Linked DNA regions of Homo sapiens: region 2 is linked to region 1. Evidence: fine-mapped expression QTL. Tissue or cell type: whole blood. Region 1 holds a variant in brackets; the other region holds the start of a gene. All regions are shown on one strand. Distances are from middle to middle.

Evidence for each region. PIP is the estimated chance that this variant, and not a neighbour inherited with it, causes the effect.
Region 2: SMURF1 starts here. The variant in region 1 is fine-mapped to the expression of SMURF1 in whole blood (INTERVAL, PIP above 0.99).

What each region holds. Positions count from the first base shown.
Region 1 is chr7:99,236,257-99,243,860 of GRCh38, forward strand. It overlaps a transcript of MYH16 not described here. Among named protein-coding and RNA genes, the nearest start is that of KPNA7, 32 kb to the left of the region's middle. The variant T/A (reference allele first, on the strand shown) is at 4,329.
Region 2 is chr7:99,141,538-99,147,354 of GRCh38, forward strand. SMURF1 (SMAD specific E3 ubiquitin protein ligase 1) reads right to left here and starts at 2,571. Exons shown (of 18, transcript NM_181349.3): 1 at 2,189-2,571. The coding sequence starts at 2,243. It also overlaps a transcript of KPNA7 not described here. RefSeq lists silencers at 1,753-1,802, 1,863-2,192, 2,333-2,832.

The DNA of each region.
Region 1 (7,604 bases):
AGAACCACACCCTCCCTGAAACTTCGAGAAGGTTCTTCAACCCCAAGACGAACTGGGGAGGCCCCTGATTTCTGTCTTTGTTCCCTTGAGCCTCCAGTTCCCCTCCTTCCTGGGGATTCAGTGAAACTGTTTGGGGTTTGGGAATTGAGAGACCCAGACTGTCCTCGTTTTAGGAGAGATAATAATTGACCCAGGCAGTCATTTTGTACTAGGGACCGCTGGATGTCTGGTGAAGCCTGTGGACTCCGCTCAGATTAGTGTTTTTAAATGAATAAAATAGGCCGGGCATGGTGACTCATGCCTGTAATCCTAGCACTTTGGGAAGCTGAGGCAGGTGGATCACTTGAGGTCAGGAGTTCAAAACCAGCCTGGCCAACATGGTAAAACCCTGTCTCTACTAAAAATACAAAAAAAAAAAAAAAAAAAAAAAATTTGCCAGGCGTGGTAGCGGGCACCTCCCAGCTACTCAGGAGGCTAAGGCAGGAGAATTGCTTGAACCCAGGAGACAGAGGTTGTAGTGAGCCAAGATTGCAGCACTGCACTCCAGCCTGGGCAACAGAAGAAAACTCCGTCTCAAAAAAAAAAAAAAAAAAAAAAAAGGTAAAATAAAATACACAGAGCTGCAAAGGAAACGAATGGTATTGTAATACTGGCTGGGTGCGTGCGCTGGCTCAAAAACCAGTAATCCCAGCACTTTGGGAGGCCAAGGTGGGAGAATCACTTGAGGCCAAGAGTTTGAGATCAGCCTTGGCAACATGGTGAGACCTCATCTCTATAAAACATTTTAAAATTAGTCGAGCATAGTGGCTTATGCCTGTAATCCCAGCATTTTGGGAGGCTGAGGTGGGAAGATTGCTTGAGCCCAGAAGTTGGAGGCTGCAGTGAGCTATGATTGCACCACTGCACTCCAGCATGGGTGATGGAGTAAGACCCTGCCTCTGAAAAAAAAAAAAAAGAAAAGAAAAAATATATTAAAAACTAATTTGTGACATGGCAGTAAGGCAATAATAAATGTCCTTCTTTATTAAAAAATTTAAAGAACAGTATCAAACCAAGGGCTTAAAGAGACCATAATTTTAAAGTTGAGATGAAGATAAACAGTATTTTGAGACATCTGCAGCCACCCTAACGAGAAGTGAAGAGCTTTGATTTTTGCTGGGAGCAAATAGAGGCTGTGGTGCTACGGAGGTCTGTGGCCTCTGTTCATATCAGATAGAAAGTGAAAACCAAGTGGCAATTGTTTTCCTGTCCCATTTCACAGACCCTGGGTAGAAACCCTACCTTTAACCTCTCCATGCCCCAGTGTTCTCCTCCATAAAATAGGCTTCCTGATCCCTACCTCACAGCCTTAGTATGAGGAACATATGAGATGAAAGAGGCAGAAGCATTTGTGTTGTTGGGGGTGAGGGGGTACTTAACTGTGAAGATTTATTAGCTTATTTCATTTTTAAATATAACTTCAACTTTTAGATTCAAGGGGTATACATGCAGGTTTGTTATATGGGTATATTGAGTGACACTGGGATTTGGGATCCAAATGATCCCATCACACAGGTGGTGAGCATAGCATCCAATAGGCCATTCTTCAATCCTTGCCTCCCTCCTGCTCTCCCCCATCTAGTAGTCCCCAGGGTCTATTGTTTCTATCTGTCTGTACCCAATATTTAGCTCCCACTTATAAGTGAAAACATGTGGTATTTGGTTTTCTGTTTCTATGTTAATTCACTTAGAATAATGGCCTCCAGCTGCATCTATGTTGCTGCAAAGGACATGATTTCATTCTTTTTTATGGCTGCATAGTATTCCATGGTGTATATGTACCACATTTTCTTTCTGTTTTTGGCTTTTTTTTTTTAAGACAGGGTCTTGCTCTGTCACCTAAGCTGGAGTGCAGTAGTACAATCATGGCTTCCTGCAGCCTTGACCTCCCCAGCTCAAGCAATCCTCCCGCCTTAGCCCTGAGGATAGCTAGGACTACAGGCACACATCACCATGCCCAGCTAATTTTTTAATGTTTTTGTAGACATGGGGCCTTGATATATTGCCCAGGCTGGTCTCAAACTCCTGGGCTCAAGCTGTCCTTCCACCTTGGCTTCCCATAGTGCTGGGATTATAGGTGTGAGCCACTGTACCTGGCCTGTACCACATTTTCTTTATCTAATCCACCACTGATGGCCACCTAGGTTGATTCCATGTTTTTGCATTGTGAATAACACTGCAGTGAACATACAGGTGCATGTGTCTTTTTGGTAGGAAAACTTATTTTTCCCTTTTTTTAGATACCCAGGAATAGGATGGCTGGGTTGAATAACAGTTCTAAGTTCTTTGAGAAATCTCCAAATTGCTTTCTACAGTGGCTGAACAATTAGCTTCTTTCTTATTCTTGGTTATGAAAGCCTAATAGCACCAAGACAGACAAGGTGACATGAGAGAAGCAAGCCTCTGTCTTTCTCGGGACATTGACTTCAGCCTGTGAGCCTCAGCAGCTTGTCTCTGCTTCCCCCTACAGCACCCAGGGAAGTCCTGGTTCCTGCCCTCAGCTCCTTCCTGCTCCATCCTCAACCAAGCCACCATGCCTGGTGGGTACAAAGGGGAGTGTGGGGACGATGTGGACCCTATGCCTTTCCTGGCACCTCCTGAAAAGGAGAGGATTGAAGCCATGAACAAGCCCTATGACATTAAGAGGTCCTGCTGGGTCAAAGATGAGAAGGAAGGCTTCGTCGCTGGGGAGATCCAGTCTGAACAGGGTGACCAAGTCACCGTGAAGACGATCACCAACCAGGTGAGTGGGGCACGATCTCCAGGATGAAACCAAGTGGCAGGCACCCAGGCCTTTTCTAGGCATGCTCCCGCCCAGAAGGCAGGGTGGCAGAAAGAGCAGGTGCCTCCGAGTCCCATGTGCTGGGGTCAAATCCAGACTCGCCTACACTCAAGCTGTGTGGCCCTGGGCAAGACGCATTCCCTCTCTGAGCTATATCACAATAGAGATTCCGAGACAGATCACATGAAAGCACTTCATAGACTCTAAGACAGTACCGTGCGTAAGGGATGATCGTGAGAGTTACTTATCTTTGATGTCTCAAACAGCTCTCAAGTGGAAGCTATTTTCTAAGCATGAGAGTGAGCATGTCACTTATGAGCAGTGTCACTGTGTGCCATGGCCCCTGGTGGCATGAGGGCCATGAGAGAGGGCACAGAACACCCTGGCTCACTGGGTGAGCTCTTCAGCTGCATGAAGAACAGATGGTGGTTCCCAGGTCTCTTGGAGCATGGGGGTGGTGTGCTGGATGTGATGGCTTCCGATGGCTTTTAACGTGTTGCAAGGACCCAACCTGGCTAATGATGGCTTGCAGGGACTCAACCTGGCTTATCGTGGATTGCAGGGATCCAACCTGGCTTGTGATGGTTTGCAAAGACCCCAACACTAAACAATGAGGGATTTTACAGCCAGTTGTTAAACCTTGGGTAGCTTGCTATCAGCCGTGATGGAAGTATTTATACCATGGAAATGGGAATATGCTGTAAATCAGGGACACTTCCCCCCAGACAGCTGGTTTACCAACCCACCCTTCTCTCTGCTGGCCCACACTACGTCTGACTATGAGATATGACTTGAGAGAATGGATAGAAAATTTGGCTTATTAGGCTAGGCGTGGTGGCTCACACCTGTAATCCCAGCACTTTGGGAGACCAAGACAGGAGGATTACTTGGGCTCAGGAGTTTGAGACTGTCCTGGGCAACTTGGTGAGACCCTATCTTTATTTTTAGAAAATAATAACAATTTTTATTAGAATTTTTTTAATTTGGTTTATTTTAAATGGGTAAGGGCAGGGTCTCTTGTATTCTTGGCAGACCCCTGGTGAGGCACTTGACACTTTGTTTAATCCTTTTGGCAATCTTATGTGGTAGGATTTATTGACCCTATTTTGCAGAGAAGGAAAACTGAGGATCAAGGGCACTTTAGGTGACCTGTGTACGTTGCAAAAATAGCAAATGATGAATTTGGATTCAAACCCACTGTATCTGGCTCATATGCCCATGCCCCTTCTATGTCACCATTCCATCCCTTCATGGTGGGCTGCCAAGAGGGAGGCATGAGCCATTGCACCCGGCCACTTTTCCATTTAAGAAAAAAGACATTACTCTGCTCCCTCCAAACCGCCTTCAAGGATAAAATTGAGAGCAAGCAAGCAAAGAAAACAAAACAAAACAAAACAAAAACAAAAAACAGAGCAATGTGTGTTCAGCAATAAATATATTAGCACCTGCGAGGTCCATTCCTGGTTAATTTCTTGATTAAAAGAAGTCAGAGGCCAGACGCGGCAGC[T/A]CAAGCCTGTAATCCCAGCACTTTGGGAGGCCGATACAGGCAGATCGCTTGAGGCTAGGTGTTTGAGACCAGCCTGGGCAACATAACGAGGCCCCGTTTCTACAAAAAATTAGCCAGGTGTGGTGCATCCCTGTACTCCCAGTTACTTAGGAGGCTGAGCCAGGAGAATCGCTTGAGCCCAGGAAGCTGAGGCTGCAGTGAGCTAGGATTGCACTGCTGCACTCCAGCCTGGGTGACAGACAGAAACCTTGTCTCAAAAAAAAAAAAAGGAAGCCAGAGACCTCAGTGATCAGAACTGGCAACAGCTGTATTTTTCTCTGCGCCTGTCTTCGAGAGGAGCAGTGGTAAAAAGATATAGTTGGGTGGAAATGGATTTGAACGAAAGTCAAGCTTAATTCCCAGGAGAAACAGTTTTCAGAGAGGAGAGTGCTGCAGTGTCGTGAGAAGTGATGGGTGATGATAGTGGAGCCCCAGGGTGCATCTAAGTTTGGATCCACATTTAAGGACAACACAATTTCCTTGAGTATCTGCAGCAGACAGTGCCGGCCAGCCGGGTTTGGGACAGAAAAGATGGAGCCTGTGGCGCTGGCTTCCCTGGCTCCTAAAATAAAGGCCAAGTTCTCCATTCCTCTGCTGAAAGCGAAGTGTCTGCACGTGGACGAGGACCAGAGATCTGGAAACCCCTGGAAATGAATTCAGAATAAAACCCAGCTTGAGGCCAGGCATGGTGGGTCACGCCTGTAATCCCACCACTTTGGGAGGCCAAGGAGGGTGGATCACCTGAGGTCAGGAGTTTGAGACCAGCCTGGCCAACATGGTGAAACCCCATCTCTACCAAAAATATAAAACTTAGTCGGGCATGGTGGCCTGCGCCTGTAATCCCAGTTACTTGGGAGGCTGAGGCAGGAGAATTGCCTGAACCCAGGAGGCGGAGGTTGCAGTGAGTTGAGATCACGCCACTGCACTCCAGCATGAGTGACAGAGTGAGACTCTGTCTCAGAAAAAACAACAAAACAAAAACAAACAAACAAAAAACAGCTTGGTTTACTAAGGGCGTGGTAACCATTACGGGGAGTGGGGGTGGATTTTCCAGAACTGTCAAGATTTCAAATTATCTGCCTATTGTACTAATAAGTTATTAAAAGTCCCAGAAATCCCAGTATGGATTCAGGCCTCACATCTAAGGTTGCAGGCAGCCAAAAGGTATTTGTTTTCTAGATCGTATGTCTTCAGCTTTGATCCCAGATGCTGGAGCTTCTTAAGAGCTGGCACTAGTTTTTTTTTTTTGTTTAGTTTTGTTTTGTCTTGCACTATCACCCAGGCTGGAGTGCAGCGGCATGATCTCCGCTCACTGCAACCCCCGCCCCCTGGGTTCAAGTGATTCTCCTGCCTCAGCCTCCCAAGTAGCTGGGGTTACAAGTGTGCGCTACCACGCCCAGCTAATTTTTGTATTTTTAGTAGAGACAGGGTTTCGCCATTTTGGCCAGGCTGGTCTCGAACTCCTGACCTCAGGTGATCCACCCACCTCGGCCTCCCAAAGTTCTGGGATTACAGGCATGAGCCACTGCACCCGGCCTAGTTTTCATTTATAGATGAAGAAATTGGGGTGCAGCATGGGGAAGAGATCTGCCCACATGGCACGGGCGCGAACACACCTACTGATGAATGCTCATTGCTGGTTTCTTTTTTTTCTTCTTTTCTTGCTTGCTTTCAATTTTATCCTTGAAGGTGGCTTGGAGGGAGCAGGGGAATGTCTTTTTTTCAAGTGGAACAGTGGCTACATGTGGTGGCTCACACCTGTAACACTTTTGGGGGCCAAGATGGGAGGATCATTGAAGGCCAAGAGTTCAAGACCAGCATAGGCAACATAGCAAGACCTTGTCTCTAGAAAAAAAAATTAAAAATTAGCCAGGCATGGTGGTGTGCACCTGTAGTCCCAGCTACTCGGGAGGCTGAGGCAGGAGGATGGCTTGAGCCCAAGAGATTGAAGCTGCAGTGAGCTATGACTGTACCACTGAACTCCAGCCTGGGCAACAGAGCAAGATTATGTCTCAAAAAATAAAATTAAATTAAAAATTTAAAAAGGAAAAGTTTGGCTGGTCTGAAGGTAGTGAGTTATCTCAATTGATTGTGCATGGTCAGTTACAGATCAAAATCCTTGTTCCACTCTTCCCCCCACCCTTCTCATTACTGCACTTAGTCTTTAAAAAAGAGAGAGAGAAATGGAAAAGCTCATCGCTATTTCGAAATCACCGCTAACTCTCAAGGCAGAGAGCCAAGAGTCACATCTCTGCAAAGTGTCCATGGGATCAAAGAATAAGCTCTGATCATCTATCAGGATGGATTTGGCTGGAAGAGAAGCAGAGCCCAGAGGTCTCTGTAACATAGGGAGGGAACGTCATAGTTTTTAAGGTATTTTTACATGATTCCACTTAAGTTCATATAATTCTCCCAGCAACCTGCCAAGGAGGCTACTGTCATCTCAACTTCAGAGAGGAGGCAGTTGAAGCTGCATTGGCCTCAGAAGTGCCTCCCCATCCCAGGACACACAGGGGGATGTGGCTGGACCAGGACTTGGGTCCACTGGATGCTCCACTCCATCTCCTGGGACTCCAGAGGGTATGTGGTGACCTGGGCCAGATGCCCCATGCCCCATGCCTGATGCCTGTGCTGCTGTGTCTTGACCCCCCCAGACACTCACTGTGAAGAAGGATGATATCCAGCAGATGAACCCACCCAAATTCTACCAGGCCAGTGACATGGCAGACATGACCTTCCTGAATGAGGCCAGTGTCCTAGACAATCTGCGCCAACGCTACACCAACATGAGGATCTATGTGAGTGCCAGGGATGGGGTGAGTGGGGGGAGGAAGGAGTGGCTGTAGATCTTCTGCTTTTCTTTTGTTGAGGAGGGGGTTGGCTACTCCACCCTCCCCAGCTCCCAGTACACATTATGACTTAGACAAAGGCACAGGGACCACGTTTCTGACATGTTAGAATTTCCACCCAAAGCCTTCGGCATCTCAGTAATGGCACCATCTCCGTGAGCAGCTTTTGCTGAGGCTGTCACCCGAAAATCTTCCTCCTCATGTTCCTCCCCTCTTCCTCAAACTCTCAAATCAAAACATCATTTTTCCCCTAGTGACTTCATGTGCCATTATTAGAAGTCCATCCATCCATCTATCCATTCATCCATCTATCCATTCATTCATCCATCCATCCATCCATCCATTCATCCATCTATCCATTCGTTCATCCATCCATCCATCCAAACAT
Region 2 (5,817 bases), 96 kb before region 1:
CGTTTCCTATCAGCCCTGGCATAAAGAAATGTATTTCCCCAGAAGCAAAGATCCCAGAGGAAACTACCTCCTACGTTACAAAACCAGGGTCTGGGTTTGGGTCCAAATCATTATTTGATATCTTTATACAAAAAAACAAAACCTTCTCTTAAGACAAAAGTTGGGCCATGCAACAACTATGGGCTCTCAAAGTAAATTTTAGTTTAAAAAAATTACCTATTGTTTGCATGGATTTTACCGATGACTTTATGGCTGCGCATCTGCCATAAAGTGTTCAAAACGCTCATTCTCTCTTTGAAAGGACCTGACCAAACCAGGACTTTGGAGTTCTCACCCGACTGAGCCACTGAACAGAAAAATCCAGGGGAAAATCCCTGACGGGGATTAGAATGAACTTTTTAGTTTCCTTCCAGAGCTGGAAATATTCGAGTTTGGAAAGTCCCGGAGCAGAGCCGCATTTGCAACACGGCCATCCTGCTTTAGGGATGAATTGAAACTGGAAAGAGAGTAGTACCAATGAGAGTGAGAAAGGGAAGACGAGGATGCAGCCTGGTCCAGAACCTCTGGAGCCCGGGGGGAAACAGGTTGGCATCACATCCGCGCCACCAAGTCGCAGGCCCGCGGCAGAGCGTTGCGCTCACCCTTGAAGGTGGCACTACAGAGCCACCCAGGAAACACGGACTTTTCATTGAAGACAAAATGAATCAAGGAGCCTGCGTGTGGGCAGCTTCCAAAGCCTCCAGTGAGTGTGGGAGTAGGGATCAGAGCCTCACGGCGCTCTGGGTTGCTGAGTGTGGGGGTGATGGTGAAACAAAATGCAGAAAAGGTAAAAATTGAAGAAGCAGAGTTAAAAGTAGCTAGCGGTCTGGCCTAAGAGACAGGAAGTGGCCCAGACTGAGACTGAAGAGGGCTGGACCAGGGGGAAGTGAAGAGAGCAGGACTGGGAGCAGCTACAAGATAGGATTGAGGAATTTCAGGCTGAAGGAAAGAAAGGGTGGAGGCCTCGCCAGACAGCAGCGAGGGGGCGGGGCTAGGCAGGAATGAGGGCGGGGCTTGAAAGTGAGGGGCGGGGCTAGGGGAAGAAGGGAGGAGGACGGTGTGGGGGGGTGAGGGAGAAACGAAAGAGGATGGGGGAGTGAGAAGAGGGTGGGTGGGGGCAGGAGGGGAGAAGCAAGGGGGCAAGTGGAAGGGGAGGTAGCAAAATAGCTTGGAAGTGGTGGGAAAGACCAGGAGGATGAGGGGAGGGAGCAGGTGGGAGGGAAAACAGGAAAGCAAGAGAGATGATGGGAAAGTGGTGAGAAGTGAGGGATGGGACCAGGGGAACAGAGGCAAGGCCAGGAGGGAAAAGCGAGGGGGCAGGTGGGCGGAGAGGATGGGAAGCGAGGAGAAGGAGGGAGGGGGTAAAAACGGCGGAGGAGAAAAAAAGGAGAGAAGCAAGGGGGCGGGACCAGGAAGAAGTGAGGGCCGATGCTAGGAAAGAAGTGAGGAGGCGGGACCAGGAAGAAGTGAGGGCCCAGGCTAGGAAAGAAGTGAGGAGGCGGGACCAGAGAGAAGCGAGGGAGCTGGACGCAGGGAGAAGCGAGGGGGCGGGGACAGAAAGTTAGGAGGCGGGAGCAGAGAGGAGCGAGGGGGTGGGGCCAGAGAGATGGGCGGGGTCAGGTTTGGGGAGGAAAGGTGGGGAAGAGAAAGGACCACAGGGATGGAGGTGAAAGGCAAGGGGGCGGGGCCTGGGGGGAGAAGCGAGGGGTCAGGTGCTAGGGAGAGGAAGGGAAGCGAGAGGCAAGGGGCCGAGCCGGGGAGAGGTGAGGGGAAAGGGCCTGGAAGGAGATGCAAGGGGCGGGGCCAGGAAAAGAGAAGCGAGGGGCGGGGCCAGGGAAGGAGATGCAAGGGGCGTGGCCATGAATGGAAATGAGAGGGGCGGGGCCAGGACGGAGATGCGAGGGGGCAGGTGCGGGGGAACGGGAGGGAACGCGAGACCGAGGGGGCGCGAGCGGCCAGGGGGCGGGGCCGGGCAACGGCGAGGGGGCGGGGCCAGGAGGGAGAAGCGAGGGGCGCACGCCGAAGGGGGTGACGAGGTCCTGGGACAACGGCCGGCGTGGGGGAGGGCCGCTTCCAAGGGCGCCCTGCGGGGAATTCCGGGGCGGGCGAGGGGGCGCCGGGGCGCGGGTGGGCCTCCCGCCGGCCGTACCTGTCAGACGGATCTTGATGCTGGAGCCGTTCCTGCGTGTCCCGGGGTTCGACATCTCCCGCCAACGATCGGGCAGCCGCGGATCCAGCGCCACCGCCCCCCAGCCCGGCCCGGCCCGGCCCCGCCGCCGCCGCCTCAAGGTTACGGCTCCGGGCTGGGCGCCGGGGTCCGAGCCGGGACACAAACTCCGCGGCCCAGGCGTCCGGGCGGCAGGCGGATGGTCGAGCCGGGAGATCGGCGCTTGCTGCGGCGCTCTGACCCTCGCTGCTTCCAGCCGAGCCCAGTCCCGAGCCGCCGCCGCCTCCGCCGCCGCCTCCGCCGCCTCCACCACCTCAGAGCCGGACGCCCGCCGCCCTCGCCGCTTCCGCCGCTGCCGCCGCCTCTCCGAGCCGCGCGCGCGCCCGCCGCCGTGCCGGCCCGGCCCTGCGCGCCCCCGCGCCTGCGTGCGTGCGCGCCCCCGCCACGTACGCTGGGGCGGGGCGGGGTGCGCTGCTACGTCGCCCGCACGCCTGCCTCGGGCGCGCGGGGCCCGGATCCCGCGGGTTGGGGTCTTCACCCTTCCTGTGGTCGGTGGGTGGGAGGGTCTGGCCCCGAGCCCGGGAAGGGAGAGCAGAGCTGGCCCCGGGACCCAGCGCGCGGTCGCCCTCTGTCTTGACCCCTGTCTCTGCGAGGCTCTGGGCTCCTGAGTGACTGAAGAGTGGTTTGCATGAAACCGTGGGCTGTGTCCACACCAAGCTCCTTGCACACAGGCGTGCAATACCAGTTTTTTTCAGTTAAGAGCTTTCGATCGTGCAAGTTCAAGGGAGGGACTTCTCAAAGAGACAAAGCCCTTAGGTGTGTTCTGTGCAACGGGTGTGCTCCACTGACCCATAACAAAGTTGCCAGAATCGCAGAAGTGCCATATACGGACAAGGAAAACGAGATGAGAGGGAGGGATAAAGTTGAGAGGCGGATGTTTGTTATTATCCATTCTGCATACAATTTTACCAAACAAGAAAGTGGCATTGTGGTTTGTGTTCCCATGTCTTCTGCTAAATTTCCCCTTCTCCCGGGGTTGCAGGTTAGAACCAAAAGCTCATGGCTGGGTACGGTGGCTGTAGCCTGTAATCCCAGCACTTTGGGAGGCCGAGGCGGGCGGATCACTTGAGCCCAGGACTTTGAGGCCAGCCTGGGCAACATAGGGAGACTCCATCTCTACAAAAAATACAAAAATTAGCTGGGCATGGTGGTGCGCGCCTGTAGTCCCAGGTACTGGGAGGCTGAGGTGGGAGGATCACTTGAGCCCCAGAGTTCATGGCTGCAGTGAGCTATGATCAGGCCACTGCACTACAGCCTGGGTGACAGAGCTAGACACTGTCTCAAAACACACACACACACACACACACACACACACAGAAAAAGCTCATTATGCGCTTTCTCCAGCAAACAAACTCCTCTCTGTTAGCATGTTATAGAAATAAACTGGTATTATTAGAAAGAGGGAAAACTAGGTTTATCAAACTTGTTTTTTACCCACTACCTTGTTGTTGTTGTTGTTGTTTTTTGAGACAGGGTCTCACTCTGTCACCCAGGCTGGAGTGCAGTGGCACGGTCTTGGCTCACTGCAACCTCCACCTCCCAGGTTCAAGTGATTCTCGTGTCTCAGCCTCCTGTATAGCTGGGATTACAGGCGTTAGCCACCACACCCAGCTAATTTTTGTATTTTTGGTAGAGATGGGGTTTCGCTGTTTTGGCCAGGCTGGTCTCAAACTTCTGAGCTCAGGTGATCTGCCCGCTTCAGCCTCCCAAAGTGCTGGGATTTCAGGCCTAAGCCACCGCTCCCAGACCCCACTACCCATTTTCATGTACAAGTTCTTTTTTATTTTTATTTGATTCTTCATCAATCAACTTGAACAAATTCTTTTAATACTGTGTGTGTGTGTGTGTGTGTGTGTGTCCCAAGGAAAGTAGGCTCTGGGCCATTGCTACCATCCCCTGCAGCCTTGTGCCTGTCCTAAGGTCACAGTCTTCGGAACAGAGCCTTCTACCTAGAGCGCCTAGACATACCTGCCTGCCTGCCCGCCTGCCTGCCTGCCTGCCTGCCTCGGATGACCCTAGTGAAAGCAGAGTCTCTCCTGGGCAGGATTCAAGGCATCACATCTGTCAAATAAAAGGATGGTCCTAGGTCATTTCTATGGCACCTTGCGGCTCTTTCAGTTATCCTCAAGAAAGACCCAAGAATATAAGCAATGTTTAAGCAATAGCAGTAGAGCCACAATCCAGCTGTTTCCATTTGTAGATGATTGTCACAGAGAGTGAATGCCTGGGTCTGAATTAATCCATCCAGTCTCTAATGCTCCCAAGTAATCCCCATTCTTCTGCCAATCCCGTTAGTATTTCCCCCCTATTCAAAGAGTCTCCTCTCTAAACAAAACCAGACATCACTCTCTGCTTACCTGGGTGCAGGCTCCTGTTCTTATCCCCAGGTGTTCCTGACCTGGAAACCTTTCATTGCTTAATTTTGTTGTTTTTCTCCCCGCCCCGACGGCTGGTTCTTCGTTGGCTTGACTGTTTCCTTAATCTTTGAGTCAGGAGGTTGCTTCTGGAGGTTTCTGAAAGGCATTTTGTTCATTCATTAACAAGTACAGATGCTCCTTGATGTACAATGGGGTTACATTCTGATAAACCCATAATATGTTGAAAATATGTCAAAAATGCATTTGCGGAGGCCGGGCATGGTGGTTCATGCCTGTAATCCCAGCACTTTAGGAGGCTGAGGTGGGGGGATTACCTGCGAGCAGGAGTTCGAGACCAGCCTGGCTAACATGGTGAAACCCTGTCAACTAAAAATACAAAAGTTAACTGGGTGTGGTGGTGTGCACCTGTAGTCCCAGCTACTCGGGAGGCTGAGGCACAAAAATCACTTAAACTCGGGAGGCAGAGGTTGCAGTGAGGCGAGATTGTGCCACTGCACTTCAGCCTGGGCAATAGAGCGAGACTGTGTCTTAAAAAAAAAAAAAAAAAAAAAAAAAAAAAAAAAAAAACAACGGAAAATGCATTTACTACACCTAAGCTACCAGCCATTATAGCTTAGCCCAGCCTACCTTAAATGTGCACAGAACACTTTCATTACCATACGGTGGGGCAAAATCATCTAACACAAAGCCTATTTTACGATAAAGTTATTATAAAGAATTTTGAATCAAAATTCGAAATTTGAAGTGTGGTTTCTACTGAATGTGTGTCGCTTTCCTACCATAACATCAAAAAATCGTAAGTCAAACCGTCATAAACTGGGACCATTTGAAATTGCTAGATATACCCAATAGTATCTTTCACCACAGCTGCACAAAGGGGACCTTCCTACCTGGAAGCTCATGTTTTACTCATTCGGCAAACATTGGCCACCTGCTATGTGGCTAGGAACAAGGAATACAAAATAAATCTATTACAGCTTCAGCATTCCAGAGGGTCAGTTAACTGGATGAAACAGACATGAGCAACTGACAATGATACAGTGATGGGGATGTGTATAGCAGGCTAGAACATAGATGACAGAACAATTCTACATAAGAAGAGAAATGGAGACATCTCGAGTCACAGATGATCTTAATCTAGAGCTTAAAGCCAACGTTCAAGTTTGCTGGGCA